Linked DNA regions of Homo sapiens. The protein of the gene in region 1 purifies or fractionates together with the protein of each later gene. This does not show direct contact. Each region holds a gene or a part of one and is shown on either strand. Other genes may lie near its edges.

The links. Proteins that work in one complex are often made in the same cells at the same time.
Region 2: the proteins of PLTP (region 1) and RAP1B purify together in Homo sapiens (affinity purification with mass spectrometry; 2 studies listed by BioGRID and IntAct, with this or other methods). This does not show direct contact.

What each region holds. Positions count from the first base shown.
Region 1 is NC_000020.11:45,909,356-45,913,570, forward strand, and holds the start of PLTP (phospholipid transfer protein isoform a precursor), read right to left. Parts: upstream 2,801-4,215; 5' UTR 2,724-2,800; intron 2,109-2,723; 5' UTR 2,098-2,108; coding exon 1,998-2,097; intron 1,897-1,997; coding exon 1,797-1,896; intron 1,640-1,796; exon of another isoform or gene 1,516-1,639; intron 716-1,515; coding exon 587-715; intron 317-586; coding exon 161-316; intron 1-160. UniProt on the Homo sapiens protein: Mediates the transfer of phospholipids and free cholesterol from triglyceride-rich lipoproteins (low density lipoproteins or LDL and very low density lipoproteins or VLDL) into high-density lipoproteins (HDL) as well as the exchange of phospholipids between triglyceride-rich lipoproteins themselves.
Region 2 is NC_000012.12:68,648,899-68,652,398, forward strand, and holds part of RAP1B (ras-related protein Rap-1b isoform 1 precursor), read left to right. Parts: intron 1-1,501; coding exon 1,502-1,570; intron 1,571-3,096; coding exon 3,097-3,153; intron 3,154-3,500. UniProt on the Homo sapiens protein: GTP-binding protein that possesses intrinsic GTPase activity. Contributes to the polarizing activity of KRIT1 and CDH5 in the establishment and maintenance of correct endothelial cell polarity and vascular lumen.

The sequences.
Region 1 (4,215 bases):
AAGCTTCAGTGACTTGGCCACGTTCACACAGCCAGGAAGTGACAGAGCTGAGCTTTGGACCCAGTTGGTCTGATTCCCAGGCCTATGCACTTTGCATTGCGCTAGGCAGATGAGCTGTGGGGCTCGAAAAGGGTGAGCTGGGGTTGGGGCTGGGGCTTACTTGAAGGTTCCCCCGAAGGCCGCGTGCATTCTGGAGACAGAGGCCTGGCAGGAGACATTGGACACTTTCATCCGTCCAGCGGGATCCCGGGAGAGCTCCAGACCAGTGCGGATGGACACACCCTCAGCTGAGGCGTTGATGTAGCCCCCATCATAGCTGCCAGGGGGGTTAATATTCACTCCAGGTAGGAGCTCAATTGAGTCTTCAGTGCCCCCATGCATCACCATACCTCTTAATAAGGTTTCACCTCTTTCCACACATCCTACCAAACCTTCCTATCAACTCGTATGAAATGCATATGCCTGTTTCTGTTACACAGATGAAGAAACGGAAACTCAGGAAGGCTAAGGGGGCTGCCCACAGCCCCACAGCACCTCCAGCCCTCCTGACCCACTCTCCACTCCCCTGAGGGTGCTGGGTCCTTACAAGAACCAGTAGAGCAGCTGTCTCCGGAAGCGCAGCCCCAAGGAGGCATTGGTGATTTGAAGCATCAGCTCCTGCTGTGGCTGGAAATCGAGCTCGGAAGATGTCAGTTGCAGCTCTGTGACCTTCACCCTACAGGAGGCCTCAGGGTCAGATCCAGGGCCAAGAAGAGGGAACTTCCCCCAACGACAGGAAATTTGTCTGCTCCCCTTTCAAGTCCAGGCCTGGGGAAGCGGGAGTGGGTGGAATGAATTCTTCCATTGTCCCTCAAGTGCCCAACTTAGACTTGGGTGGCTCAAAGTTGAACTTGGGTGGCTGAGAGAGGAGGTCTTCCTGATCCAGGTGTTAAAAATGAGCTTCACCCCATCGCTTAAAAGTCTTGTTTGTTTGTTTGCCAGGTGCGGTGGTGGCTCATGCCTGTAATCCCAGCACTTTAGGAGGCCGAGGAGGGCGGATCACTTGAGGTCAGGAGTTCGAGACCAGTCTGGCCAACATAGTGAAACCCGTCTCTACCAAAAATACAAAACTTAGCAGACCGTGGTGGCACGCGCCTGTAGTCCTAGCTACTCGGGAGGCTGAGGCAGGAAAATCGCTTGAACTCGGGATGCGGAGGTTGCAGTGAGCCAAGATCGCGCCACTGCACTCTAGCCTGGGCAACAGAACAAGACTCCCTCTCAGAAAAAAAAAAAAAAAAAGTCTTGTTTGCTTGCACCCCCTCCCCTCCCACACCCTGGGGTTGCTACACCCGGTCTTTTAATAGAGTCCGTTCACTTTGCCTCCATCACCTAAGCTCCGTCTCACATCTCAATTCCTTATTCCCCCTCCCTCATCCTAAACCATACTTAGAGCCTTCAGTTTCTCCACCCCTCCGATTAACTCCACCCCGTGCCCGAGACTCCACTCTCATCTATTGGGAAGTTCCTTGACTCCACCTTTCTGTTGTTCTTCGACCACGCCTCACATCCACTGGTCCTGCTTCCTTCTTGGCCCCCTCTACATTTTCAAGGCCACGCCCATCTGCCTGGTCCCGCCTATGATGACTGGCTTGGCCTTTATCTTTTCGGCCCCATCCGGTTTCTTAAGTCTTGCCTCATCGATTTGGCCACGCCCCATCCCACTCAGCCTCCAGTCTCCCGAGACCCTGAGATTTCTCGGGCCCCGCCTCCACCGCCGAGGCCCCGCCCCGGATCGCGAGGCCCCGCCCCCCACTTACTCAGAGATGTTGTAGTAGAAGTGGCCTTCTTTGCCCCGCAGGTCCGGAATGGTGATAGTCTCCAGCTCTTGCTCCAGAAAGCGCAGCCCCTCCTGCTTCACTGAAGCAGCAGAGAAACCCTTACTTAGCTCCCGTGCCCACTGTTGGGGCGACCCCAACCCCGTCCGCTCCCGTCCGTCCCTGTCTGCCCCTGCGCCTTACCCAGCTCCAGCGCCTTGGAGGTGACGCGGATCTTGCAGCCTGGGAACTCTGCATGTGCGCCTGCCAGCAGCGCTAGGAAGAGGGCCCCGAAGAGGGCCATGGCGAGCGGGCCTGGGGGTGGGGTGGGGTCGCAGGAGTTATCTGAGCCGCTTAAACCCATTCCTTGGACGTCCAACCATAAGTGGGAACTAGCCTGGATCGTTACCCTCCAGATAACTCTTCGGGGAACTTGGAACCAATAATCTTGCCTCCATATGGCAGATGTGGAAACTGAGGCTCAGAGAGGCGATGCGACTTGCGTTCTGGCTCCCAGAGGATTTGGGACACGGGGGAGGGGACGTTCCCAGTTCCCTCGTGCTACCGCCGCGTGATGAGTTTGGACCTCCAGGGGACCAGCCCCCACACCCCCAACAACCTCCCCTTTCCTTTAGCGGTGGGCCCATGCAGGCTTGCACGTTGCCACGGCAACGACTGCACGCGCATTCTTGGAGGGTGGCTTGCGGTCTCCTAGGCCTCGCGCCCGGGGAGGAGAGGAGGTGGCCGACCAGACCGTGGGCTCCCGGGTCTCCCGGCTCCCTCAGGTCCTAAATCTCTCCCATTAGAGATTCTGCCTGGAGCCCCCATGTTAGCGTTCTCCTTCATCGGCTCTCCTCCCCACGCCGGCTTCAGTGCACCACGCGGCTCGGCGAGGGACTGGGAACGGGATAGGGACGCGCCCCAACTCACTCAGCGGTGGAGCTGGGGGGCGGCGCGGTCACGTGGGATGGCGGGCAGCTCAGGGGATCCGGGCGACGGGGTCTGGCGGGCAGGGTTGTTCCAGCCGCCTTTATAAAGCCGGCCTCCCCGACCCCTCCTCCTCTCTGCAGCTCTCCCCTCCTCCCTTGGGGGCTGGGAGGGGACGGGGCGGGACGCTGGCAGCCGGGAGAGTGGAAAAGGCTGCACAGAGCCCCGTGACAAGCCCGGCCGCTGTCTGGACAAGTGGGAGACCCAAGCCCAGGGAGAGGGAAGGAAATGCAGGAGCCGGCCCACTCAGCCCCAACAATCCCACTTTGCTGGGACCTTGGTTCAAATTACAATTATCCATGTCTTCCTGCATGATCTTGGGCAAGTCACTTCACTTGGGTCACTGACCCTCAGTTTCTTCCTTCAGCGAAATGTGCACGATGATAGGAACTACCTCTTGGGCCTTTATTACAACCAGGTCCAGGCACAAAGTCAAGGAATATTTTTTCTTTCCCTGCCACCCACAATCATCTCGGGACCTCCTTGCCTGGCTTTGCTATGGGCCCCCCTACCTGTCTCTGTGTCACCACCTGGGGACCTTAAGGTCCCAGAGACCTTTCCCACTTGGGAAAGCAAGACTAGACAAGTGCTGTCAGCCCAGGAACATACCACACCGGCTGAAATCAGAAGGAGGTCTGCCATTTATCGTGGCTGGTGGATTGTTTTTTCTATTTTTTTTATTTTTATTTTTTGAGACGGAGTCTCGCTCTGTCCCCCAGGCTGGAGTGCAGTGGCGCGATCTCGGCTCCCTGCAAGCCCCGCCTCCCGGGTTCACGCCATTCTCCTGCCTCAGCCTCCCCAGCAGCTGGGGCTACAGGCGCACGCTGCCACGCCCGGCTAATTTTTTTTGTATTTTTAGTAGAGACGGGGTTTCACCGTGTTAGCCAGGATGGTCTCGATCTCCTGACCTTGTGATCCGCCCGCCTCGGCCTCCCAAAGTGCTGGGATTAAAGGCATGAGCCACCGCGCCCGGTCCACTGGTGGATTTTTTAATGAACCCTTGGAGCAAGGTGCTCTGAACAGCATCCCCGCCCCCACCCCCACCCCCACCTCCATCTACTGCTTACAGGGTTCCCGGACCCTAGGACAGGGCACAGAGTGGGTGCTTGCCACCTTTTTGTTGCCAAATGGACGAAAGAAAGGGGAAGCAATAATCATGTCTGCTGAGCATGTATTTAGCACCAAACACTCATCTAGGAAGGATGACTAACTCATCCTGATTTGCCTAGGACTTTCCCCATTGTGTCTTTTTTTTCTGATATAATCCACAGATTCACAAAAATAGTTCCATTTCCTTTTTTATTTAATTAATTAATTAATTTTTTTGAGACACAGTCGTGCTCTGTCACCAGGCTGCAGTGCGGTGGTGTGATCTTGGCTCACTGCAACCTCTGCCTCCTGGGTTCAAGTGATTCTCCTGCCTCAGCCTCCCAAG
Region 2 (3,500 bases), on another chromosome or scaffold:
ATATAATATTTTTCTTGTAATTTTATTCAACTTTTAATTATATCTGGGTGGATCATATTCTCTCTGGAACATTGACTCCAGAATGACACGAGTTATGCTGGAATACAATTTGAGCTAAGCACAGAGATTGAGAGCGTACAAATACATGTCTTTTTGCATTCGCATTTCAGAGCCAGATAGGAATAAATTTTGGTCTTTTTATTTATTTATTTTTTTGAAACAGGGTCTCACTCTGTTGCCCAGGCTAGGGCTCAAGTGATCTCAGCCTCCTGAATGCTTGGGACTACAGGCACGTGCCACCATGCCAGGCTAATTTTTAAAATTTTTTGTAGAGATGGCGTCTTGCTATATTGCTTAGGCTGGTCTTAAACTCCTGGCCTCAAGTAATCCACCTTTGCCTCCCAAAGTGCTGGAATTACAGGCATAAATCACCATGCCTGGCTTGCTCTTTCTTCTTATGAATAGTCTTACCCTGTACATTTTATGTTAGAAAATATCAAAGCTTATAAAAAGTCTTCAAATATTACCTTTGACTGTCCAGCTTTACATTTTTTAACGGCACGTTTTCTGCATCAAGGAATGGTATAGCAAGAATGAAGACATAACTGGGTAATGAGGGTTGGGAAAGAGGAAAAACGTAGGGAAAATAATTTGATGAATAGTTCAGAGCTTAGCAAAGCCTCACAAGCAAATAGATTGACCTTCTGTCTCACTCATAAGATAAACCATCTTGGCCACTTAGAAAGGCCACCTAGCTGAGAAGTGTCATGCTTGGAACAAACTGAGAAGTACATACAATGTGAAATGAACTGCTTTTTCATTTGTATCCAAAGTGATGGGGAGGTCAGTTGATCCTGCATGTATGTGTGTATACATAACAATTAGTCAATTTCTAATTTAAAAATCAAATTTAAGCTCTTAAGACTGAAACAATGCCGGCACAGTGGCTCACGCCTGTAATCCCAGCACTTTGGGAGGCTGAGGTGGGCGGATCACCTGAGGTCAGGAGTTCGAGAGCAGCCTGGCCAATATAGTGAAACCCCGTCTCTACTAAAAATATAAAAATTAGCCAGGTGTGGTGGTGCATGCCTGTAATCCCAGCTACTCGGGAGGCTGATGTGGGAGAATGGCCTGAACCCGGGAGGCAGAGGTTGCAGTGAGCCAAAATTGCGTCACTGCACTTCAGCCTGGGAGACAGAGCAAGACTCTGTCTCAAAGAAAAAAAACAAAGGACTGAAACCAGAGACATTTAAAATTTTTTAATATATGATCTCTAAATTTAGAATTACCCAATAAGGAGCATAGTGATTATTTATTTAAAAATAAACAGCTTCCTGAGGTAATTTTCTTACCAAATGTACACATTCGAATGTAGTATTGGCTGTGGTTTTTTTTTTCATTGATGGTGTAACTCCCTGTGTGAACTCAGTTTACAATTACATTAAAGATTGAATGTACTCTTTTCTTTAGAAGTATAATGGTTTCTTAATTTTTTTTTCAGACTGTACAATTTGTTCAAGGAATTTTTGTAGAAAAATACGATCCTACGATAGAAGATTCTTATAGAAAGGTATATATTACTTTGGAAGGCCTTTTGCTTTTGATTTTAATATAAATACTTATTTTAGCTTTATAATTATTGAATGTTTTATACAAAGGATGGAGGCAGAGTTAATTTATAAAATTAGTGGGAAAAGTTTACACTTTCTGGCATTGCATAGTTACCAGTTTAAGAGGATCATAAACACCCATACTCTCACATATTCACAGAATTTTTTGTAATTTGACACATAAACTTTAAAGCAGACCATCCATTTCAAGTAGTAGCCCCATGTTACTTTCAGTCCCCTACCTAGCAAGACTGATTACTCTCAAGCTCCCTTCTTTTTAACCTAGAAATAGGTGGACACAGGTCTTCCTAAGCTTTCTACTTACTAACCTCTTGAGAAAGTGCCACCACTCACAATACTGGTTGAATATCCCTTATCTGAAATAACTGGGACCAGAAGTATTTCAGATTTCAGATTATTTTCTGATTTTAGAATATTTGTATATACATAATGAAATAGAATGGGACCCACATCTAAACAATTCATGGTTTCATATACACCTCATACACATAATCTTACATAATATTTTTAATATTCTTATGCATGATACAAAGTTTTGGCTGCATTTTGACTGTGACTGGTCACATGAGCTCATGTGTGGAATTTTCCACTTGTAGCGTGATGTTCCACACATGGCTCAAAAACTTTTGGATTTGGAACATTGCAAGTTTTGGATTTTTAGATTAGGGATGCTCAGCCTATAGAAAGGTGAATTCCTGTGTCCACTAACAGCATGTGACAATAAAACAATGTGTAGACATTTTTAACTTAGTAGGGAAAGAGGTATTTCCCAACCTCTATGAAGCAGCCAACCTGGCCCCGCTGTTGCACAAATACTGTGTTTCCATTCCTCCCTCCATGTGCATAGTCTACCAAAAAAAAAACTGGAAACTTTTGCACCCCAGCTGTGAGACAGTATTACTCTTTTCTTTCTACATCTAATTCTAAATACCTATTTTTCCCTAGGAAATATTAGATGGAAAGGGGTAACAGGGATATATGTGTAATTTATTTAATAGCTGTGCCACTGCTTCCTTAATTCCAGAAATCTTGTTCCAGTATGGTGAGGGCATATAGTTACCTAGAGAAATGAGGTATATCTAAAGTATCATGGGAGAATTTAGACAGAATTACTTATGATACTGTTGGAACTGTTGCTGGTTTTGTTTGTTTATTTGAGCTATTTCGAAACTATTTTTTTCTCTAGAATTAAGTGCTGAGAATCCATATTGAGACTGGTTCGTGTAGGTTTCCCTGTGTTGACTTGAGAACACATGGCTTTTGAACTTGATTACAATTTGGGGGTCTTTGAATCTTGATTACTTAGCTATTTTTCCTCCTGCTTTGTTGAAGTATTGCTGGATATTAGTTTGTAAAGTTGTTAAAATCTGTGTGTCTTATTTTTGATACATTAGCTTTTTTGTGTATATTAAGGTAGTTTTATGTACATTGAAAAAATGAACATGTATTTTAATTTTTCTACCAGCAAGTTGAAGTAGATGCACAACAGTGTATGCTTGAAATCTTGGATACTGCAGGAACGGTAGGTAAAACTAAATACCAAAGTATATACACCGTTTGTACAGTATTGACTTCATAAATGCTAGTACTCTATAGACAAATATTAGTTAAGCTTATTTAAAAGTACTGCTTGCAGCCGGTTGTAGTGGCTCACACCTCTATTCCCAGCACTTCGGGAGGTCAAGGTTGCTGGATCACTTGAGGTCAGGAGTTCGAGACCAGCCTGGCCAACATAGTGAAACCCCATCTCTACTAAAAATACAAAAATTAGCCAGGTGTGGTGGTGGGAGCCTGTAATCCCAGCTACTCAGGAGGCTGAGGCAGGAGAATCTCTTGAACCCAGGAGGCAGAGGTTGCAGTGAGCCAAGA